Linked DNA regions of Homo sapiens. The protein of the gene in region 1 purifies or fractionates together with the protein of each later gene. This does not show direct contact. Each region holds a gene or a part of one and is shown in the gene's direction. Other genes may lie near its edges. The genes, in order: ELK1, CDH3, DPM1, PADI4, TMEM33, PPP6C and ZNG1C.

What was found.
Region 2: the proteins of ELK1 (region 1) and CDH3 purify together in Homo sapiens (affinity purification with mass spectrometry; one large-scale study listed by BioGRID and IntAct). This does not show direct contact.
Region 3: the proteins of ELK1 (region 1) and DPM1 purify together in Homo sapiens (affinity purification with mass spectrometry; one large-scale study listed by BioGRID and IntAct). This does not show direct contact.
Region 4: the proteins of ELK1 (region 1) and PADI4 purify together in Homo sapiens (affinity purification with western blotting; one study listed by BioGRID). This does not show direct contact.
Region 5: the proteins of ELK1 (region 1) and TMEM33 purify together in Homo sapiens (affinity purification with mass spectrometry; one large-scale study listed by BioGRID and IntAct). This does not show direct contact.
Region 6: the proteins of ELK1 (region 1) and PPP6C purify together in Homo sapiens (affinity purification with mass spectrometry; one large-scale study listed by BioGRID and IntAct). This does not show direct contact.
Region 7: the proteins of ELK1 (region 1) and ZNG1C purify together in Homo sapiens (co-immunoprecipitation; one large-scale study listed by IntAct). This does not show direct contact.

What each region holds. Positions count from the first base shown.
Region 1 is NC_000023.11:47,637,793-47,640,563, reverse strand, and holds part of ELK1 (ETS domain-containing protein Elk-1), read left to right. Parts: intron 1-1,225; coding exon 1,226-1,669; intron 1,670-2,381; coding exon 2,382-2,771. UniProt on the Homo sapiens protein: Transcription factor that binds to purine-rich DNA sequences. Forms a ternary complex with SRF and the ETS and SRF motifs of the serum response element (SRE) on the promoter region of immediate early genes such as FOS and IER2.
Region 2 is NC_000016.10:68,697,310-68,700,792, forward strand, and holds the end of CDH3 (cadherin-3 isoform 1 preproprotein), read left to right. Parts: intron 1-783; coding exon of another isoform or gene 784-858; exon of another isoform or gene 859-881; coding exon 882-1,091; 3' UTR 1,092-2,983; downstream 2,984-3,483. UniProt on the Homo sapiens protein: Cadherins are calcium-dependent cell adhesion proteins. They preferentially interact with themselves in a homophilic manner in connecting cells; cadherins may thus contribute to the sorting of heterogeneous cell types.
Region 3 is NC_000020.11:50,941,533-50,945,032, reverse strand, and holds part of DPM1 (dolichol-phosphate mannosyltransferase subunit 1), read left to right. Parts: exon of another isoform or gene 1-676; intron 677-2,906; coding exon 2,907-3,002; intron 3,003-3,500. UniProt on the Homo sapiens protein: Transfers mannose from GDP-mannose to dolichol monophosphate to form dolichol phosphate mannose (Dol-P-Man) which is the mannosyl donor in pathways leading to N-glycosylation, glycosyl phosphatidylinositol membrane anchoring, and O-mannosylation of proteins; catalytic subunit of the dolichol-phosphate mannose (DPM) synthase complex.
Region 4 is NC_000001.11:17,362,351-17,364,504, forward strand, and holds the end of PADI4 (protein-arginine deiminase type-4), read left to right. Parts: intron 1-1,171; coding exon 1,172-1,405; 3' UTR 1,406-1,654; downstream 1,655-2,154. UniProt on the Homo sapiens protein: Catalyzes the citrullination/deimination of arginine residues of proteins such as histones, thereby playing a key role in histone code and regulation of stem cell maintenance.
Region 5 is NC_000004.12:41,945,429-41,948,928, forward strand, and holds part of TMEM33 (transmembrane protein 33), read left to right. Parts: intron 1-3,500. UniProt on the Homo sapiens protein: Acts as a regulator of the tubular endoplasmic reticulum (ER) network by modulating intracellular calcium homeostasis. Mechanistically, stimulates PKD2 calcium-dependent activity. Suppresses the RTN3/4-induced formation of the ER tubules.
Region 6 is NC_000009.12:125,169,304-125,172,803, reverse strand, and holds part of PPP6C (serine/threonine-protein phosphatase 6 catalytic subunit), read left to right. Parts: intron 1-787; exon of another isoform or gene 788-856; coding exon of another isoform or gene 857-895; intron 896-1,623; coding exon 1,624-1,719; intron 1,720-3,500.
Region 7 is NC_000009.12:68,244,983-68,248,482, forward strand, and holds part of ZNG1C (zinc-regulated GTPase metalloprotein activator 1C), read left to right. Parts: intron 1-230; coding exon 231-317; intron 318-2,630; coding exon 2,631-2,727; intron 2,728-3,500.

The sequences.
Region 1 (2,771 bases):
TTAAAATTTCCCCCATCCTGCCCTCTCAGACCCCCAGGCCACTGCTGGGTTTCTCCTCCCCCCAATATTTATACCAGTTATTTCATTTTCTTAATCCTTCTACTGAAATTTCCCAAACAATATTCATGAATATCCCTTTTTATTCCTCTTCCGAGAAACACAGGCCCACCCTGTGACATATCTGACCAGCACTAAGACTTCCACAGAATGCCCTAGTGCCTCCACACTCCCAGAACTGCCCTGGTCATATGCTGCACACCCTTCATAGTTTATGGCATTTATTCCATTTTCATATTTTATTCCTTGAGCTCAACCCTCCAGAACAATATTAGTAATGAGGCTATCTCACTCTGCCCTCTGGGAACACTAGGTCATCTCTGAGACCCACCAGACCTGAAAAACCCCAAACATGCTCTGTGACCCAGCAAAGCCAGCCTTGATATAGGCCCCCTCCCAATATTTATACCAGTATTTTTAATATTCTTGTCTAATTGCTGTTAGTTACTTCATTTTCTTACCATTTTAGCTTCAACCTCCACAGTGGTATTAATAATGAGGCCTCCTCACCCTCTCCTCTGCAGTGACCTTGCCCTGTTCCACTTCTGTATCATTAGCTTCAAATAATCCTCTGTATTAATAATTCATCACCCCATCCATCTACATTAATTTACTTTCTTCCAACATTTATATCAGTTACTTCATTTTCTTGTCTTATTGCATTTGCTAGTCTCCAAAACTGTGTCCTGACAGTCACCCACAAGGCCTGGCCCTGTGAACCTCTGGTTCTTGGAGCCAGGAAGAAGACCTGCTCCCACACCTACTGCCCTTCATGGGCCCCATTGTGAAGAGGAGCTACAGTGTGGAGGGAGTGGGAAAATCAGATAGACGGACCTGGAGAGTGACAAAGGGAGGCTTGGAAAGGGGTGGATGGGAAGGGGCTTAAAGAAAAAATTATTGTGGAGAGAAGAGAGAAAGGGGAGGAACTGGGGAGGGATATAGATAAGGGGAATCTGGCGGGAGAGGAAAGAGGTAGAAACCAATGGGAGAGGAAATGGGCTGAGAGAGAAACTTACAGAGGAGGGACGGGAAAGCCGGAGAGGAGCAAGTGGGAAGAAAGCCACTAGGAGAAGAGAAATGCCACTCCACCCCCCTCCTCCCCCCTGACACCCTGCCTCCAGCCTGCCCCTTTCCTCTAAGGCCCTCTGTTCCTCTCCTCCCTTCCTAGAACATCATCCGCAAGGTGAGCGGCCAGAAGTTCGTCTACAAGTTTGTGTCCTACCCTGAGGTCGCAGGGTGCTCCACTGAGGACTGCCCGCCCCAGCCAGAGGTGTCTGTTACCTCCACCATGCCAAATGTGGCCCCTGCTGCTATACATGCCGCCCCAGGGGACACTGTCTCTGGAAAGCCAGGCACACCCAAGGGTGCAGGAATGGCAGGCCCAGGCGGTTTGGCACGCAGCAGCCGGAACGAGTACATGCGCTCGGGCCTCTATTCCACCTTCACCATCCAGTCTCTGCAGCCGCAGCCACCCCCTCATCCTCGGCCTGCTGTGGTGCTCCCCAGTGCAGCTCCTGCAGGGGCAGCAGCGCCCCCCTCGGGGAGCAGGAGCACCAGTCCAAGCCCCTTGGAGGCCTGTCTGGAGGCTGAAGAGGCCGGCTTGCCTCTGCAGGTAAGGACTGGAATATAGAAATTCAGTAAGAGGAGGCAGTAAAGAGGAGGGATGTGTAATCCCCGGATGACGAGGGAGGCTGGTAGAAGAGACATAGCTGTCCCGTTAAAGGAGATAATGGTGGAAGGAAGACATCCTCTTAGAAGGAGGGGTGGGGCAGAGAGCTACACAAATCCTGAGACAGAAAGGGGAGAATACTGTGCTACAGTTAGTAGCTGCCGAACATGTAGGTGCCTGGAATATGTTTAATGCACTGGTTCTCGCACTCTAGTGCTCATCAGAATCACCTGTAGGTCTTGTTAAACCACAGATTGCCAGGCACACCCCCAGAGTTTCTGAATTTGTGGGGCTGGGGAGGGGCCCAATAATTTGCATTTTTAACTTGTTACCAAATGAGGCAGATATTGCTGGTCCAGAGGAAGGTAAATTTTTGAGAACCACTGTTTTAATGAATGAGGATGGTATCCCTCAGATTCCTACCCGCTTCAGGTTGTCTCACCCCAAGTCCCCTGTCCCATAGGAGGACCTGCCCCAGAGGAAGCCCTACTTCCTTGACGAAGTCCTATGTCCTGTTGGAGGACTTGCTCTGATGTGCAGTCATGCCCTGAGTACCAAGTGCCACCTTCCCGGGGAAATCACTGGGTGGCCCACAGGAGAATCCTGTGGTCCCAACAATCCTTACACACCCTCTTTGTGCCTGCTCCTCTACCAGGTCATCCTGACCCCGCCCGAGGCCCCAAACCTGAAATCGGAAGAGCTTAATGTGGAGCCGGGTTTGGGCCGGGCTTTGCCCCCAGAAGTGAAAGTAGAAGGGCCCAAGGAAGAGTTGGAAGTTGCGGGGGAGAGAGGGTTTGTGCCAGAAACCACCAAGGCCGAGCCAGAAGTCCCTCCACAGGAGGGCGTGCCAGCCCGGCTGCCCGCGGTTGTTATGGACACCGCAGGGCAGGCGGGCGGCCATGCGGCTTCCAGCCCTGAGATCTCCCAGCCGCAGAAGGGCCGGAAGCCCCGGGACCTAGAGCTTCCACTCAGCCCGAGCCTGCTAGGTGGGCCGGGACCCGAACGGACCCCAGGATCGGGAAGTGGCTCCGGCCTCCAGGCTCCG
Region 2 (3,483 bases), on another chromosome or scaffold:
GGAGATTCCATCTTTAAAAAAAAAAAAATTAGGAATGATTTATTCATTTATTCAACACATATAGCAGTTGAATACTCTGGAGCCAGACTACCTGGGTTTGGATTATAGATCCCAGGTGATTGCACCTGGGGGGCAAAGTTTGGAGCCTCTGCTGTAGAAGACTTCAAGGATTGAACGAGCAGGCAGCTAGGACAGTGCCAGCACAGTGGTTCCCGACCCTGCCTGCGTGTTGGAATCACCTGGGCACCTTCAGAAACCACTGATGCCTCAGCTCACCTCCAAAGATTGTGATATAATTGAACTGGGTGTGGCCTGGGCTTCAGAATTTATAAAAGATTCTCCAGATAATTTAAGTTTCGGAACTACTGACCTAGCATGTAGCGCTTATTAGATAATGATAGCTATTGTTGCGAGGTGCTATTCTAATAACTGCTTTACAGGTATTTACTCATTTACTCATTCATCTGTTCCTTTAAAACTATACGGAGGCACATGTCCTCAGTACCTCCCGAGGCTGTGTCACAGGCATGCATCCTTTAAAAAAGGAAGAAAAAAACTATTGTCATTTTACAGACAAGGAAACAGGCATAGAGTGGTTAAGGGACTCGCCCAAGGCCACAAAGCTAGTGTGTGGTGTGAGTTCTGGCCCGGGCTGTCTGATTTCAGTCCTTGCCCTTACCCCCTGGCCTGTGTTGCACTGAGCACTTGCTGTCTGCTGGTCCCTGAGTGAATGAATTCTGCATGAATAACGCATTCTTTCATTTCTACCTCCAAAACCTTTAGGGGAGGGGAGAGAGGGGCTCACAGAGAGGAAATGGAGGCTTGCAGCTGGCAAGAGGCAGGACCCGCCGCTCCTAACTACCTGTTCTCTGTTGCCGCAGAACCTGAAGGCGGCTAACACAGACCCCACAGCCCCGCCCTACGACACCCTCTTGGTGTTCGACTATGAGGGCAGCGGCTCCGACGCCGCGTCCCTGAGCTCCCTCACCTCCTCCGCCTCCGACCAAGACCAAGATTACGATTATCTGAACGAGTGGGGCAGCCGCTTCAAGAAGCTGGCAGACATGTACGGTGGCGGGGAGGACGACTAGGCGGCCTGCCTGCAGGGCTGGGGACCAAACGTCAGGCCACAGAGCATCTCCAAGGGGTCTCAGTTCCCCCTTCAGCTGAGGACTTCGGAGCTTGTCAGGAAGTGGCCGTAGCAACTTGGCGGAGACAGGCTATGAGTCTGACGTTAGAGTGGTGGCTTCCTTAGCCTTTCAGGATGGAGGAATGTGGGCAGTTTGACTTCAGCACTGAAAACCTCTCCACCTGGGCCAGGGTTGCCTCAGAGGCCAAGTTTCCAGAAGCCTCTTACCTGCCGTAAAATGCTCAACCCTGTGTCCTGGGCCTGGGCCTGCTGTGACTGACCTACAGTGGACTTTCTCTCTGGAATGGAACCTTCTTAGGCCTCCTGGTGCAACTTAATTTTTTTTTTTAATGCTATCTTCAAAACGTTAGAGAAAGTTCTTCAAAAGTGCAGCCCAGAGCTGCTGGGCCCACTGGCCGTCCTGCATTTCTGGTTTCCAGACCCCAATGCCTCCCATTCGGATGGATCTCTGCGTTTTTATACTGAGTGTGCCTAGGTTGCCCCTTATTTTTTATTTTCCCTGTTGCGTTGCTATAGATGAAGGGTGAGGACAATCGTGTATATGTACTAGAACTTTTTTATTAAAGAAACTTTTCCCAGAGGTGCCTGGGGAGTGAACTGTTTTCTAAATAGAAGGTTTATTGGCATCTAACTCACATACCATACCATTCACTTGTTTAACGTTTACAATTCAATGGTTTTTAGAATTTTCAGAGTTCTGCAAAAAGAGTGGGCTCTGTTTACCCTGCTGGCTTCACCCAAGCTTCCTCTCAATGGCAGGGGATACTCAGGGTCAGCTTCCATGCCTAAGTGGGCTCAGGGAGGGGAGACTTGCCCTCCTTTGCAAAGTCAGTTGCTCCATGAGAGAGAACCATTAACCTCTTACCCCAAGGCTGAGCCCCTCCACAGCCCCAGCAAGGTCTCTTCTGGAACAGCGGCTGCCCTCCCTGCAGGACAGTGTGTGACGACTTCCTCTTCTATGCTGGAGGGGTCCCTGTTGAAAGGCAGGGGTTGGGGAACAGCCAGCTCTGCTACTTGCTAGCACATTTTTTTTTTTTTTTTTGAGACGGAGTCTCGTTCTGTCGCCCAGGCTGGAGTGCAGTGGTGTGATCTTGGCTCACTGCAAGCTCTGCCTCCTGGGTTCACGCCATTCTCCTGCCTCAGCCTCCCGAGTAGCTGGGACTACAGGTGCCTGCCACTATGCCCAGCTAATTTTTTTTGAGTGTGTGTGTTTTTTTAGTAGAGACGGGGTTTCACTGTGTTAGCCAGGATGTCTCGATCTCCTGACCTCGTGATCCGCCCACGTCGGCCTCCCAAAGTGCTAGGATTACAGGCTTGAGCCACCGCGCCCAGCGCTGGCACATCATTTAACCTCCAGTTGCCTCAGATTTTACATTTACAAAATGGGGAGTTTTTGTGGAGATTAAGTGAATTAATATCTGGCACATGGTCCATGCAATCTGTTAGTTGGTAACAGCTACCATTTATTCAGTACTTTTAAAGGCCAGACAGGACTTCGATTATTTCCTCTAAATCCTCACAATCACCCTCTGAGGGGACTTTCTCCTTTAAAGAATGGCCACATTGTATTTGTTTTTTTAAATGACATCTGGTCATCATCGAAATCAAGCAAAACAAAATTAAGAGAACCTACCCAAGATGTCAGTGAAATTGGAACATTCCTGACAATACCAGGGCATAAATGCAGGAATCAGGAATAGGCAGCAGTGATAGAACAATTCTGTTTGTGCCCTTGTTAACGTGAAGTTCAAAGTCATCTTTGCAATTAGCCAAAAGAATCTGAAGTGAAGCTGAGGAAATTGCTGATGTTGAAATAAACATTTCCTTCCATGAGGATGACTAATTCTGTAAAGCGTCTCTGCTCAAAGCACAGACCCTGAACCGGAGTTATCGGTGCCACCTGCTGAATCGGAACCTCTAGGCAGGGCCCTGCTGTGGGTTGACAAGCCCTCCGTGGGATGCTCCTGCACACTCAGGTTTGCTGCCAAGACTCTGAAGGATGAGGCCAAGGAGCCTGAAGCCTCAGACTTTGGATGGAGAAACCAAAAGGAAATGAAGTTGGGGCTGGGCACCATGGCTCACGCCTGTAATTCCAACACTTTAAGAGGCTGAGGTGGGTGGATCACTTGAGGTCAGGGGTTCGAGACCAGCCTGGCCTGATCCGCCCGCCTCGGCCTCCCAAAGTGCAGAGTTATAGGCGTGAGCCACCGTGCCCGGCCTACACACACATTTTTGTACTAAAAATACAAAAATTAGCTGGGTGTGGCGCCTATAATCCCAGCTACTTGGGAAACTGAGGCACAAGAATCTCATGAATCCGGGAGGTGGAGGTT
Region 3 (3,500 bases), on another chromosome or scaffold:
TGTAGATGCTAAAGGAGATATTATTTACTACCATTTTCTAGTTAAAACTTTAAGAATAGAAGGAAACCTCTTAAGCATAATAAAAATAACCCAGTCCTAATACAAATACCACACCAAATAGTGAAATGCTGAATCATTTCCAATACATGCATTAATACAGGCATGCTAGCTATCATTAAACATGGAAATGTTAATACAGTAAGATAAGAATTTAGTTAAATGTTAGTAAAATATACACAGTTATATTTGTTTGTAGGCAATATAATTAAATTCTTAGCCCAAAAGACCACAAAACCTCTGTGAATAAGATTTTGGAAGCTGTTCTGAGTTTAAGCTAGATACATAAAAACAGAATCAGATTATTGTCCCTCCAGTTCAGGGAGTTCAGGGAGTTCCCACTAACATCTAGGGAAAAATCCAAGTTCCTTCCCTTGTCCCTCAAGCCCCTATGTGTTTGTTGGCCCCTGCCTCCCTTTCTGACCTCTGCCTTGTGCTCCTTCCTTTTTGCTTTCCATGCCATAGCATGCTTCTGAGTTCACAGAGTTCCATTTTCCTTTGCCTGAAATGCTGTTTCCATGCTCCTTGATGACCATCTGCTGCTCATCCTTCAATCTCTGCGTAAAGTCACCTTAGACCTTTTTTGGTTATATCTCCAGTATACAAAAGCCTCTTTAACCTGTAGAGTAGAAAATGGGCAAAAAGATACAAACAGACCATCTATAGAAGAAATCCAAATGGCTAATAAAAGAAGACGTTCTTCCTGGGATGTAGTCAAGGAAATAAACACAAAATAACTGTGTGTGACCATTTTATTATCCATTAGTTTAACAAAGTTAAAAACTTTTAGAGCAGTAGTAATATCCAGTACCAATAAGATGGTAAAAAATGGACACACAAATATTGCTGAAGGAAGTATAAGTTGCTATAACCCTTTTGGAAAATATGTGTTCAAATTTGGGAAAATATGTGTTAGAATTAAAAATACTCAGGCTTGGCCGGGCGCAGTGGCTCACGCCTGTAATCCCAGCACTTTGGGGGGCCGAGGCGGGCGGATCACGAGGTCAGGAGATCGAGACCATCCTGGTGAACACGGTGAAACCCTGTCTCTACTAAAAATACAAAAAAATTAGCCAGGCATGGTGGTGTGCACCTGTAGTCCCAGCTACTCGGGAGGCTGAGGCAGGAGAATGGCATGAACCTGGGAGGCGGAGCTTGCAGTGAGCCAAGATCGCGCCACTGCACTCCAGCCTGGGCGACAGAGCGAGACTCCATCTCAAAAAAAAAAAAAAAAATACTCAGGCTTCATTTGGGCAATTCCAGTATATTCCATTTTGGGGAGTCTAAGCAGTAATACATTTATAAAAACGTTTATTGTGGCCAGGCACAGTGGCTCATGCCTGTAATCCCACACTTTGGGAGGCTGAGGCGGGCGGATCATGAGGTCAAGAGATTGAGAGCATCCTGGCCAACATGGTGAAACCCCGTCCCTACTAGAAATACAAAAAATTAGCCGGGCATGATGGCACTCGCCTGTAGTCCTAGCTACTTGGGAGGCTGAGGCAGGAGAATCACTTGAACCCGGGAGGTGGAGGTTGCAGTGAGCCGAGATGGCGCCATTGCACTCCACCCTGGCAACAGAGCGAGACTCCATCTCAAAAAAAAACAAAACAAAACAAAAAAAGTTTATTGTAGCACTGTTTATTGTGGTTGAGAGGGTAGGGCACCATGGAAACAACCACAGAGGTGTGTGAGTTGAATATTCTATGAAGTAGTTTTGCAATTATTAAAAAGAATGGGAAAGAGCTCTCTTGACCTGTAGGGATGTCTATGATTCCATGATTTGCATTGTTTTTGTTTTGAGATGGAATCTCACTCTGTCATGCAGGCTGGAGTGCAGTGGCGCAGTCTCAGTCACTGCAACCTCCACGTCCCGGGTTCAAGCAGTTCTCCTGCCTCAGCCTCCAGAGGAGCTGGGAATACAGGCACGTGCCACTACACCTGGCTAATTTTTGTATTTTTAGTAGAGACAGTTTCACTGTGTTGGCCAGGCTAGTCACAAACTCCTGACCTCAAGTGATCCACCTGCCTAGGCCTCCCAAAGTGCTGGGATTACAGGCGTGTGCCACCACATCTGACCCCATGATATGTATTGTTAACTGACAGAAACCAGGTCACAAAATGTACTTTTTTTGCATCCCAATTTTGTAAATGCAACCAAAAATCCTAGGGGTGTATGTTTGTCTTTATCTTTCTCTAGGCAAAGAAAAGTGTGGCAGGACATCAGGCTGTTTTTAGTATTATTTGCTTCAAAGAAGGCAAGAACAGAATGGAAGGGTATTGGGAAAATTAATTATTTTAATTTGAGAGACAAGGTCTTCCATTGTCACCCAGGCTGGAGTACAGTGGCACAATCACAGATCACTGCAGCCTGAACCTCCCTGGCTCAAGCCATCCTCCCATTGCAGCCTCCCAAATAGCTGAGACTAAAGGCATGTGCCACTGTGCCCGACTAATTTTTTTTTTTTTTTTGAGATGGAGTCTCACTCTTGTTGCCCAGGCTAGAGTGCAGTGGCGTGATCTCAGCTCACTGCAACCTGCCTCCTGGGTTCAAGTGATTCTCTGCCTCAGCCTCCTGAGTAGCTGGGATTACAGGCACCCGCCACCGCGCCAGGCTAATTTTTATATTTTTAGTAGAGATGGGGTTCCACCATCTTGGCCAGGCTGGTCTTGAACTCCTGGCCTCGTGATCCACCCGCCTCGGCCTCCCAAAGTGCTAGGATTGCAGGCGTGAGCCACTGCACCCAGCCTGTGTCGACTTCTCTTAAAAGTTTTGTTTGTGTAGCTCATGAAAATGACTGTTGAAAGCTCAGTGGCTTTTTCTAATTGACAGCTAATTTATTCTACAGGAAGCAAAAGGAGGGTAATTTTGATATTGTCTCTGGAACTCGCTACAAAGGAAATGGAGGTGTATATGGCTGGGATTTGAAAAGAAAAATAATCAGGTAGGTACATGTGTTACAACTTCTTTATTAGTATAACTACTGGAAATGTATTCATAGCAAGTATTTGGATTAGCTATCATGCTGCCCGGGATTTGTGGGATCAGGTTATAACTTCCAGTAAATACTCCCAGATAGTTTCTTACAGTTTTTCCTGTGATTAGAGCCTGGATGTTTTTTATTAAGGAAAAATCAGCATAAACCTTTGGACCTTTGGTAGAAATGGTCTCATTCAGCAAAAGTTACTGTACTGGACCTTCAGTTTTAATTTATGTGACCTGTTCTATACTTTTGGTCTAAATATGTAGGGTTTCTCCCCATAATTATAGTGTAATTTTAATTAAGATTGATTTCAGACAGACCTGGGTTAAAGTCTTAACTCACTGCAACCTCTGCCTCCCGGGCTCAAGCAATTCTCCTGTCTCAGCCTCCCGAGTAGCTGGGACTGTGGACCTGCACCACCATGCCTGGCTAATTTTTGTTTCATAGAGATGGGGTTTC
Region 4 (2,154 bases), on another chromosome or scaffold:
CAAAAAAAAAAAAAAAAAAAAAAATTAAATAATGTCCTTTGCAGCAACCTGATGGAGCTGGAGGCATTATCCTAAGTGAACTAAAACAGAAAATCAAATACTGCATGTTCTCACGTATAGGTAGAAGCTAAACAGTGGATACACATAGACACAGAGATGGAAATAATAGGCACTGAGGACCCCCAAAATGGAGAGAATGAGAGCGAGGTGAGGGCTGGAAAATTACCTATCGGGTACGATGTTCATTGTTTGGGTAATGGATACACTAGAAGCCCAGTGCCCACCAGTAATCAATATACCCATGTAATAAATATGCATATGTACCCCCAAATCTAAATTTTTAAATTTAAAATAAATAAGAGTATGGAACTTGGAGTCTAATAGCTGTAGTCCAAGTATAGCTGGGTGGCCTTAGGCAAACAATTTTCCACGTCTGGGTCTCAGTTTTCTCATTTGTAAAGTGGGGCTATTATTTTTATTTTGTTTTAATTTTTGAGACAGAGTCTCGCTCTGTCACCCAGGCTGGAGTGTATTGGAATGATCTCGGCTCACTGAAACCTCCACTTCCTGGGTTCAAGCAATTCTCCTGCCTCAGCCTCCCAAGTAGCTGGGATTACAGGCACACCTGGCTCATTCTTGTATTTTTAGTAGAGACGGGGTTTCCCCATGTTGGCCAAGCTGGTCTCGAGCTCCTGACCTCAGGTGATCCACTCGCCTAGGCCTCCCAAAGTGCTGGGATTACAGGCATGAGCCACCACACCCAGCAATTTTTATTTTTGAGGTAGAGTCTCGCTCTGTCGCCCAAGCTGCCAGGCTGGAGTGCAGTGGCACAATCACAGCTCACTGCAGCCTTGACCTCCTGGGCTCAAGTGATCCTCCTCCCTCAGCCTCCAAAGTAGCTGGGACCACAGGCACGCACCACCATGCCAAGCTAATTTTTAAAAATACTTTTTTTAGAGATGGGGTCTCACCATGTTGCCCAGGCTGGTCTCAAACTCTTGGGCTCAAGCGATCCTCCTGCCTCAGCCTCCCAAAGTGCTGGGACTACAGGTCTGAGCCACCACCCCTGGAGGGGCTATTATTTCCAAAGGTCAGAGAAGGGTGGGGCCGCTCAGATTGCGCTGCAGGCTGCCCGCTGCTGCCTGTGACCTGAACCCTCACTTCCCTGCAGGTGAACATGCTGGTGCTAGGGAAGCACCTGGGCATCCCCAAGCCCTTCGGGCCCGTCATCAACGGCCGCTGCTGCCTGGAGGAGAAGGTGTGTTCCCTGCTGGAGCCACTGGGCCTCCAGTGCACCTTCATCAACGACTTCTTCACCTACCACATCAGGCATGGGGAGGTGCACTGCGGCACCAACGTGCGCAGAAAGCCCTTCTCCTTCAAGTGGTGGAACATGGTGCCCTGAGCCCATCTTCCCTGGCGTCCTCTCCCTCCTGGCCAGATGTCGCTGGGTCCTCTGCAGTGTGGCAAGCAAGAGCTCTTGTGAATATTGTGGCTCCCTGGGGGCGGCCAGCCCTCCCAGCAGTGGCTTGCTTTCTTCTCCTGTGATGTCCCAGTTTCCCACTCTGAAGATCCCAACATGGTCCTAGCACTGCACACTCAGTTCTGCTCTAAGAAGCTGCAATAAAGTTTTTTTAAGTCACTTTGTACATGAGGTCAAGATGTTGTTGGTATCATTCATTCATTCACTCATTTGTCATGGTTGAATTGACTATCACAAAACAAACTGAAAAGTGTTAACAGGCTGCACTGAAGGCCACGTTATTGTGTGTGTCTTTTGCTCCCAGACATGTATTTGGGCTATAAAATTTTGCATGATCCTAGTTCGTTCTGAGTTTCCCACGGGACCTTTCCAAGAAGAGGAGGAGGAGGGAGCAGGGGAGGGGTAAGCCCCGCTGAGAATCTGGGCATATCCCTCTTTAAACTCACCTACAACTGGGCATTCACCTACGTACTGATAGCGATGGATTTTTGTGGAATGAAGTAATTCATCTCCTCGGTGTTCTTTTTTATATTGCCTTTTATGGCTTCGACATAAAGACTCAGATTCCTCTGTAGAAAATAAAACTTGATGGCTTGAGATCATTAAAATTGAGACCAGATATTGGCTCAAAAGGGTCCAAGATATTCAGAGAACACCCAGGGATCCTGTTA
Region 5 (3,500 bases), on another chromosome or scaffold:
TGCTACCCAGATGATTGCTTTATCAATTTTTAGTTTTACAAGTAATGAGACATTACAGATAAAAGCTAAAATAGCATTTGACTATATGAATTCTTGCTGCAATTTTGTCCTCTTCCCAAAGGTGTAAGGAGTTTAATATGTGTCTATGTATGTAGTCCTTTAAAAATACTTATACAAATTTGTAGAACATATATATTATGGATGTGGAGTTTTGTTTGTTAATTTGTTTAGTTCTTATTTTACATCAAAGATGTTATTCTGGCTGGGCACAGTGGCTCATGCCTGTAATCCCAGCATTTTGGGAGGCCAAAGTGGGCAGATCACTTGAGGTCAGGAGTTCAAGACCAGCCTGACCAACATAGTGAAACCCTGTCTCTGTTAAAAATACAAAAATTAGCCAGGCATGGTGGTGCACACCTGTAATCCCAGCTACTCGGGAGGCTGAGACAGGAGAATTGTTTGAATCTGGGAGGTGGAAGTTGCAGTGAGCCCATATCACGTCACTGCACTGCAGCCTGGGCAACAGAGTGAGACTCTGTCTCACCAAAAAAAAAAAAAAAAAAGAAAAGGAAAAAAAAAAGTGTTATTCTGTACCTTTTTCCCACTTGTATGTTTTCATAACCTAATTGATTTGGCATATCCAGTTCTGTTTTTTTTTTTTTTTTAGCCGTATAACATTCCAACTTATCTCCTGATCATGGAATATGTTTCCAAATTTTCAGTTTTCCAAATATTGATGCAGTAAATATTTTTTACCTGCTTATACTTAATGCCAGTGTTTTCTTTAACATAGATACCAGAATTGATTTTGCTAGTACAAGCTAGGTGCCTTTTGTGTTTAATGGACCATGCTAAATTGTTCTTTAAAATGTCTGTATTACCTGTTTTTCATAATTTTGTTAGTTTGTAACAAATGTCCTTATTGATCATATAGTTATATTTTATAATTTTAAATGTACCTTGCCTTGATTAACTAGTAAAGTTTTCATGTACTTGACAGTTACTTCTTTCTATAGCAGTCTCTTCAAACTAAGAACAGAGTTTTATAGATTTCCTTATAAATATATATCTGTTTCATTCTTTTAAGTAGTGCTTTCTTCTGAGAACTCCAGGACTGGCTGGTGTTGCTTAAGTTGTATGGTCCCAACTAGATTTGATGCAGTTGTATTTGTAAATTAACTCTAAAACCTTGACCCTAAAATTTAATAAAAGCATCCTCTTATCCTAGAAGCTGAAAGCATATAAAAGAAAAGGGTAATGTAATCTGGGACAGCAGAAAAAGGGACAACATCAACATTCTAATATTTTTTCCATCATTTATAGGTTTTTCTTTCCACCTCTTTCTTTTGTGATCCTGATCTACACTTAGAAACTTTAATTATTAATTAGTAAGAGGAACTTTTTGCTCCCTTTTGTTATTCATTTTTCTCGGGTTTTTGTGTCACTTAATCCTGCTTTTGGGTCAGGATCACAGGTTCTGTGATTTGTTTCATGTAACTAGATGAAAGTTAAAATGGTAGATACCAGGCCGAGCACGGTGGCTCACAGCCTGTAAACCCAGCACTTTGGGAAGCCAAAGCTGGCAGAGCATGAGGTCAAGAGATCGAGACCATCCTGGCCAATGTGGTGAAACCCCGTCTCTACTAAAAATACAAAAATTAGCTGGGCCTGGTGGTGTGTGCCTGTAGTCCCAGCTACTCGGGAGGCTGAGGCAGGAGAATCGCTTGAACCCTGGAGGCAGAGGTTGCAGTGAGCCGAGATCGTGCCACTGCGCTCCAGCCTGGCGACAGACCAAGACTCCCTCTCAAAAAAAAAAAAAAAGATAGATACCGAGACTAGTTTTTTTGTATGGGTATAATTGATGTCTATATCCTGAAACCTCCAGATTCTGTTTAGTAAGCAAAATAATTTCTTATGCTCCTCTTAAATCAGATTAAAATAATTTTAATGAAATTCTGAGATGCCATGCAAACTTAGACAAAAACTTCACTTTGGAACTATAGTGAATTTTTTGTTAGGAGCACCAGGTTTTGACTGCGTTGGTACATTAATTCAATTGTGCTCCTTAAATGTTTAATTTAAACATTTATTTGTACAAACTTACCATCTTAATTTTTAAGATTACTGTAAAAAAGATGAGAATTTACCAGAAATGTTTAAATAGAGAAATAATTTTGTTTGAAAAATTAAAATCAGCTTATAAAGTGGTACTTAATTCCTATTAGGAAAAGCTGTTAATGCCTTAAGTAGGTAGTTTGAATATGACCTAAACAATAAAATTAAGAACAGTCTTACATTACTGCTATTCTTAATATGCTACCCTTTCTGGTATACACACAGTCTAATATTAGGAGGCTTTATCAAGTTACATTTGTGCCAGTAATGCTTCAAGCTCTGTATTTAAAAATTGATGCATTGTCTGAGTTTATCTTACACATGCGTTGCACATGTGTGCAAAGACAGGTAAAAGGATCATTGTGGCTTTTCTTCTAATTGACTGGAGCCACCCAAATATTCATTAGTACGGAGTTTGTTACATAATAGTCCAAGCATTAGATGGTATATTTGAAGCTGTAAAAAAGATTGCGGTAATTTATGTGTTGTGATATGGGATAATCACCAAGATATAATAAGTTAAACTTAGTTGTGTAGGGTGTTCTCCATTTATATTTAGTGGGGTGTATGTGTGTAAGGACATAGACGTTTCTGTCTCAGTTTTTTGGGAATGATAAACCATCTCTGTCCTAGAGTTGTTAAACAGATTTAGTGAATTATAAAGTGAGCACTATCAATGTTAGTCATTATATACACTTGTATATATACATTTCTGGAAGGACATATTCGAGATTGTGGTATAAGTTTGAGGAAGGGGCTAACTTGGATGATGGGAAACTTGTTTTTTAAGTGAATATTTTCTATTTATATTTTCTATGTTGTGTCTCTTACATTTTCACTTTAAAAAGATAAAAATTTGTCAAATTATTAGGGAAAATGGATGTTGCATTTGTTTAGTGGTAAGTTCGTAATCGTGTAAATTTTTTTTAATGAAAATGATACAATTTAGAAGAAAAGGCTAAAAAACCTAATAAAACACATTTGGCATCTTAATATATTTCTTCCAATTTAAAAAAATACAATTGTAATAATATGTGTAGTTTTATATTCTGCTTTTTTCAGAGTTGCTATGTAATTTTCATAACCAAGATTCTAGGTAGTTGCATATTAAATCCATTAAATAACCATAATATAAGTTGTTCAATTCTACTTCCTTACAGTTCACATTAGGTTGTTGCCACATTTTGTTTGTAGTTATTTCAGTGAATGTCTTAATTCAGATAGTTTTTCTTAGGGAAGAATTCCAGACCTGGTATTTCATAAACATATATATAATTCTTGGGATATTGTAATTGTGTTTTTTAACCAAGAACAATAATTAGTATAGGCTGTTTAGATTTACTGATGAGCCAGTGTAATTTTTTTGGTGGAGGGGAGTGTTTGTT
Region 6 (3,500 bases), on another chromosome or scaffold:
GATGTTCAGATTTCTTCAGTTTTACTTGTGTTTGTGTGTGTGTGTGTGTGTTTGTGTGTGTGTGTGTGTGTGTGTGTGTGTGTTTGTGTGTATTCAGTTCTTTGCAGTTTTATTGGGTAAGGGCTCATGTATCCAACTCTATAGTCAAAATACAGAACAGGTCCATCATCACAAGAATTCCTCATGTTGCCCTTTTATAGCCACACCCACTTCCTTCCTGCAACTGCTGGACCCCTGACAACAACTAATCCGTTCTCCATTTCTTTAATTTTGTCATTTCAAGAATGTGTAAACACGGCCGAGTGCAGTGGCTCAATGCCTGTAATCCCACCACTTTGGGAGGCCGAAGCGGGCAGATCACCTGAGGTTGGGAGTTTGAGACCAGCCTGACCAACATGGTGAAACTACTAAGAATACAAAAATTAGCTGGGCATGATGGTGTGTGCCTGTAATCCCAGGTACTTGTGAGACTGAGGCAAGGGAATCACTTGAACTGGGAGGCAGTTTGCAGTGAACTGAAATTGTGCTACTGGACTCCAGCCTGGGCAACAGACCAAGACTCTGTCTCAAAAAAAAAGGGAAAAAAAGAAGGTTATATAAATGGAATTATACAGTATATAACCTTTTGGGACAGTTTTCTGTTGTTTCATTTTTTTCACTCAACATAAATGCCTTGAGATGAATCCAGGTTGTTGTGTGGCAGTATTCGTTTCTTTTTATTGCTGAGTAGTATTACATGGTGTGGATGTACCAAAATGTGTTTAACCATTCACTCATTGAAGGATATCTGATTTGTTTTTAGTTTTGGGCTATGATGCATTAGGCTTCTGCGAGTATTTATATACAGATTTTGAACATGTTTTTATTGCCAAGACTACAGTTGCTGGGTCAAATGGTAAGTGTGTGGTTTGCAATTTATTTTTTAAATTACCAGATAAAAATCTTTTACTGGCTGGGCACGGTGGCTGACGCCTGTAATCCCAGCACTTTGGGAGGCTGAGGTGGGTGGATCACCTGAGGTCAGGAGTTCAAGACCAGCCTGGCCAACATGGTAAAACCCTGTGTCTACTAAAAATACAAAAATTAGCCGGGTGTGGTGGCACATGCCTGTAACCCCAGCTACTTGGGAGGCTGAGGCAGGAAAATTGCTTGAATCTGGGAGATGGAGGTAGAAGTGAGCCGAGATCGTGTCACTGCATTTCAGCCTGGGAGACAGAGTGAGACTCCGTTTAAAAAAAAAAAAAACAAAAAAACCCAAAAACCTTTTACTGTTAAAATTATTTCTTCATATATATATATATATATATATATATATATATATATATGTGTGTGTGTGTGTGTGTATATGTGTGTGTGTGTTTGGTGAAAAACATCATTTTACAGTTCTTGTAAAGCTGTCTGTCTCCTAGAACCTTAGTGTCTCTGTAGGTAGTTTGCATTGCATTAAGAATTCTGTGTGACAGCTGACAGAAATCCAACCCCCGAATTATCACAGGGTACTTTCCTATCAAAAAGTATACTTGGGTTTTGTAAGTATTAGACCTGGTATTTTTCTTTTTTGGTATTTTATCTTTAGTTTTAATGTTGTAGTAAATGTTTACCTTTTATTTTCTCTTTTTATAGCGGCTATGTGACTACGTTTGTGACCTCCTCTTAGAAGAGTCAAATGTTCAGCCAGTATCAACACCAGTAACAGTGTGTGGAGATATCCATGGACAGGTAAAATTTCATGAGCAGATTTTTAAGTTTTGTACTGTCCATGATCCATGTGTGTTTTCACATGTGCTGCAAAATTAAAACAACAACAACATCAACAAACACAACTGGTGGTAAGCTAGGTTGCCTCAGTCTCTGTGACACAAATGATTCCTGGTTTACATTTTTGGTGAATAAAAGCAGTGGTCAAATTAGTGATGGAATTTGTTGATAATTACATTTGTGAAGTGAATAATGCAGCATTAGTTTTCTGTGGAATGGTGGGGTTGGGGGTAGGTAGAAGATATAAAGTACAAACACATACTGCTCATAATAACTATGATTAACAGGAGATGTTTTGGTGTTAGGCACTTTTTTCATTCAGTTCATTTCTGTTCTCCTGTCATATATTGTTGAAAATTTATCATTTCTTTAGTGGGAATGAGAATAGCAAAGGTACAGAAAAATAAAATTGTTGGTCCATGATGTCACAGCAAATCACTGATGAATGAGCTAGAAAATATTTAGCTCAATTTTTCATCTGCTGGGTGTTTGTAAGAATTTCAAAGCAGTGCCGGGCGTGGTGGCTCACACCTGTAGTCCCAGCACTTTGGGTGGCTGAGGCGGGTGGATCGTGAGGTCAGGAGTTTGAGACCAGCCTGACCAACATGGTGAAACCCCGTCTCTACTGAAAATACAAAAAAATTAGCTGGGCATGGTGGTGCGTGCCTGTAATCCCAGCTACTCAGGAGGCTGAGGCAGGAGAATCTCTTGAACCCGGGAGGTGAAGGTTGCAGTGAGCCGAGACCGCACCACTGCACTCCAGCCTGGGCAACAGAGCAAGACTCTGTCTAAAAAAAAAAAAAAGAATTTCAAAGCAGTAACAGGAGGGGCATACCTCATATTTAGATTCTGTTGTCAGTGTTTAGTCTCATGTATATTTGTAGAATTTTTTCACTGGGAAATGAAAGCTGAACAGATTACTCATAGAGTGCTATATGCATACAGTGTAGTTGGGGCCATAAGACTTAATAATACATTGCAAACAATGTAGTCTTTAAAGGATGCCAACAGGACTTACTGTCACCTGTGCAATTTCCCTGCTTTAAATATGACTGTGTAAATGAGCAGAAATGTGTGTAAATTGACTCTGATTAGGGGCTGCTCCATGAGTAAAGTCTTGTTTTGGCTACTTACTTACAGGCTGATTTTCTTTTGGTTTTTCAAGGTGTTTTCTGGATTTTTTAGATTATAAAAAAATCTGACACTTGCATGTCATCACCTCCTAGATGGAGGTCCCATTATGTCATCTTTGATTGTTAAAATTACAGTTCTTTAGAGTAGACTTTAGGAATTGATTTCCTAAAATTTCCATGTAACTTCTCTCTCAAACATTTGTATTTTGCTAACATAAAGGATATTAATATAAGCAGTGTCTTAAGACATTCCTGAAAACTGGAATAAACCAAGTCATGTTTTCCCCCAGTGTAGTGTAGAAGTTTCTATGTAACTTCTCTCTCAAAGTAAACATTTGTATTTTGCTAACATAAAGGATATTAATATAAGCAGTGTCTTAACACATTCCTGAAAACTGGAATAAACCAAGTCATGTTTTCCCCCAGTGTAGTGTTTCCCCCAGTTGTAGACTTTTTAAGATGTGAAGTACAGCCATGATCAAAGGTCAGAAAGTTAGAGACCAACCTCGAACTACTAAAATTGGAAGCATAAAATTGAACTTTTGTATTATATATACCTTCAGTCAAATGTGCAGTTCTTGCTAACATATATCTTGTGTTTTGAGGTTA
Region 7 (3,500 bases), on another chromosome or scaffold:
TTTCAACTTGTAGGAGTGTTTGTAAATATTTATAAAATTTTATGTCTACATAAAGTATTTTGCAACAGGTTTCAAAGGATGCTTTAATCTTATCCTCTAGGATATTCTATACTAAAATAATATATGAAAAATAGCATGCAAATTCTCAAAAACGTTAGGATTCTTTATATGTTTTTTGTATCTTTAAAATTATTTTGAATTTTTTTATTTACAAAAAATATGTTTTATAGGTGCTGGGAAGACAACACTTCTGAACTATATTTTGACAGAGCAACATAGTAAAAGAGTAGCGGTCATTTTAAATGAATCTGGGGAAGGTAAGTAAAGTTCAATAAATGTCATGTTGCAAGATTTTGTGTGACTGTTTATTCCTCTGGTGAATTGATATTCCATATTTAAAAATGAAAATGCAAGGTATTGTATTGATGTGGATAGCTTTAGAAAAATTAGATTAATTTCTGTTAAGATTTATATGGGTTGAGATACTGAAATTAGTTTTAATAAAATTTTATTTTGTATAACTTTGGAATTCTTATTAACAGAATTAAACTACATTTTTACATGAAATAAATGACTCCAGAAGTAAAAATCTAGACATATGAAAAAACGTTTATTTTTTATTTTATTTTATTTTTTTTGAGATGGAGTCTCTCTCTTGCCAGGCTGGAGTGCAGTGGTGCAATCTCAGCTCACTGCCACCTCTGTCTCCCGGGTTAAAGTGATTCTCCTGCCTCAGCCTCCCGAGTAGCTGGGACTACAGGCATGCGCCACCATGCCCAGATAATTTTTGTATTTTTAGTAGAGACAGGGTTTCACCATGTTGGCCAGGATGGTCTTGAGCTCCTGGCCTTATGATCCACCCGCCTCGGCCTCCCAAAGTTGCTGGGATTACAGGCGTGAGGCACCATGCCTGGCCAAAAAATGTCTTTTTTAGGAATTAGAAAGGCAGTTTTGTATGGACTCTATTGCAACTCATGAAAAATATTTGAAAATGCTTCTGTTATTAGTTAACTTTGTTTAATGTTTATTATCTGCAATGCAGTTAAAACTCAATATTTTAAAAAGAAAGTAAACATATGGTCTTTATCCTCATGTATTTTATCTGTGAAAATAAGTGTGCTTAACTTCTCAACTCAAATATTAAACTGTAGTAAAAAAAAATAGCTCTAGACACAATACTTCTGTTATCTTTATAGGAGTTTTTCTTCATAAGTATGAATTGTAATCAAAGCTCACTTCTAGCCAAAAAACAATATCTATTAGACGATTTCTTTTAAAATGTACTATTTTTTTCAGTTGTAAAAAGTAAAAGAGCTAGGTTTTATGAACAGGATGGGAAGCCAGTTATATTCCAGTTATATTCGATTTCTGATTTTAATAAACTAAAGAGAAAAGTGCTTTTTAGGCAAAAATCCTGAGATTTCTAATAACAGACTGTTTTTTTCATCATCTTATTAAATAACCTATTGCACACTGATTACATTTATTCTTACTATTTTCTTTATTTTTTCCTGGATCATTTTCACAATTTTATTTTTCACAGCATTCTCAATACTTTTCTTCATGTTTCATTAATGTTCTGTATATAGTCCGAATTCTGTAGCAACCTCTTTAGAAGCTCTTTATTAATACCTAGCTGAAATATAAAAAATATGTAAGTGTAAAACTACTCGATTTTATGGGAGCTCATTTGCTTAGTGGACTTTTAGAACTTCACCGTTTGGTATATTTCTTTATTAGAGGAAAAGTAAAACATTTAAAATAATTCTTATAGATAACAAGCATTTCAAATATAGTTTATTCTTTCTTAAGTAAGTATTGCTAGGAAAATATGTGAATTTGACTAAAAGTTTAGGTTTTTTTTTTTTGAGATGGAGTCTCGCTGTGTTGCCCAGGCTGGAGTGCAGTGGCACAGTCTCGGGTCACTGCAACCTCCGCCTCCCGGGTTCACGCCATTCTCCTGCCTCAGCCGCCTGAGTAGCTGGGACTACAGGCGCCCGCTACCACACCTGGCTAATTTTTTGTAATTTTAGTAGAGATGAGGTTTCATTGTGTTAGCGAGGGTGGTCTCGATCTCCTGACCTCGTTATCCGCCCGCCTTGGCCTCCCTATAAGTTTAATTTTTAAATGAGCACATGGTACACTGGCCAAAAACCTTCCTCAGGATGAACTAGGGTTTTTACTCATTGGGAATATTCAGCAGTTTGTCTAACAGAAACAATTTAGAAGAAGAATGAAAAGAAAAAGATAAGGCAGTCTCTTAAGAGGTTGAAGGGCATACAGAATCCAGTATATAAAACATACTAGTCGATTTAGAAAGTTTACCCTGGACAAGAAAAAAATGCCTTCATTAAGAAATGGGGGTGGCCAAGTAAGAGGCCTAAGGAGGAAGTAGGTATGTTTATCAGTTTAGGATGTGTCTTTTTCAGGGCTTAAGACATCTTAAATAAAAGCTAAAATAATGTAGTGTACTGTAATTTAGGTATCAAGGCTGCATGAATAAAGTGAAAGAATATAAGTTATAAAATGCAGTTTCTGCTTTAAGATCTCCATTATTGAGTTATCCTCATCTTTGTTTTTTGTTGGCTAATGGACATAAGCTAAAGAGTGCTGTTTGTTATTTATTCTAGGAAGTGCGCTGGAGAAATCCTTAGCTGTCAGCCAAGGTGGAGAGCTCTATGAAGAGTGGCTGGAACTTAGAAACGGTTGCCTCTGCTGTTCAGTGAAGTGAGGAATGTGTTTACTGTGTACATGGTTTACTAGAAATGTTTATTGATTATATTTCCAGCTTTAATTTTCTTGAGTAATTTAACTGAATTTACACAGTTTGCTTCATTGTATTTTCAAACAAATAGAAAATAAACTTATTAGGAAGCATTTTCTTAAAGTGTTTCTTGCTGTCTTTTCTATCTGCTCTAATGTTTTGGTCCTTTTATTGAGTTTTTATTGCTTTTGATGTCAGGGCTTATTTAATCTCTAGTGCATGAAAGTCTCATATGTAAAAAATGATTATTCTGAATTTAATCTGTCATTGGTCATACTTCTAAGTGTTCAACCTTATAAAAAATAAATGACTATCAAAAAAGAAAAACCTTACATTATGTTCTAGTAGTTAAGTTTCCAAGGACAGTGATCACTAGTCTACCATAGACCCTAGAAGAGTTACCCAACACATAGTAGCACTCAAATATTTGTTGAATGAATTATAAAAATGACTACTTGTATTGTTAATTTTGTGTATTCTAGTGAATTAAATCTCTTCGGCATCATTTACTCCCTTAGGTATTTGACTTTGTGTCAAATGTTTTGGCAAGGATAAAATTATAACAGACTTTCTTGAACAACCAAAATGTAATCTATTAAGGATTTTCCTTCACTTTTGATAAAATAAGAAAAAAGGAATTTAAAACCTTGCATCCTAATGTAAAATAGAATTATATGGTGTTTAATATCAGTGTCCCTTTAGCTATTATATTAAACTACTATAGTTAATAAATTTT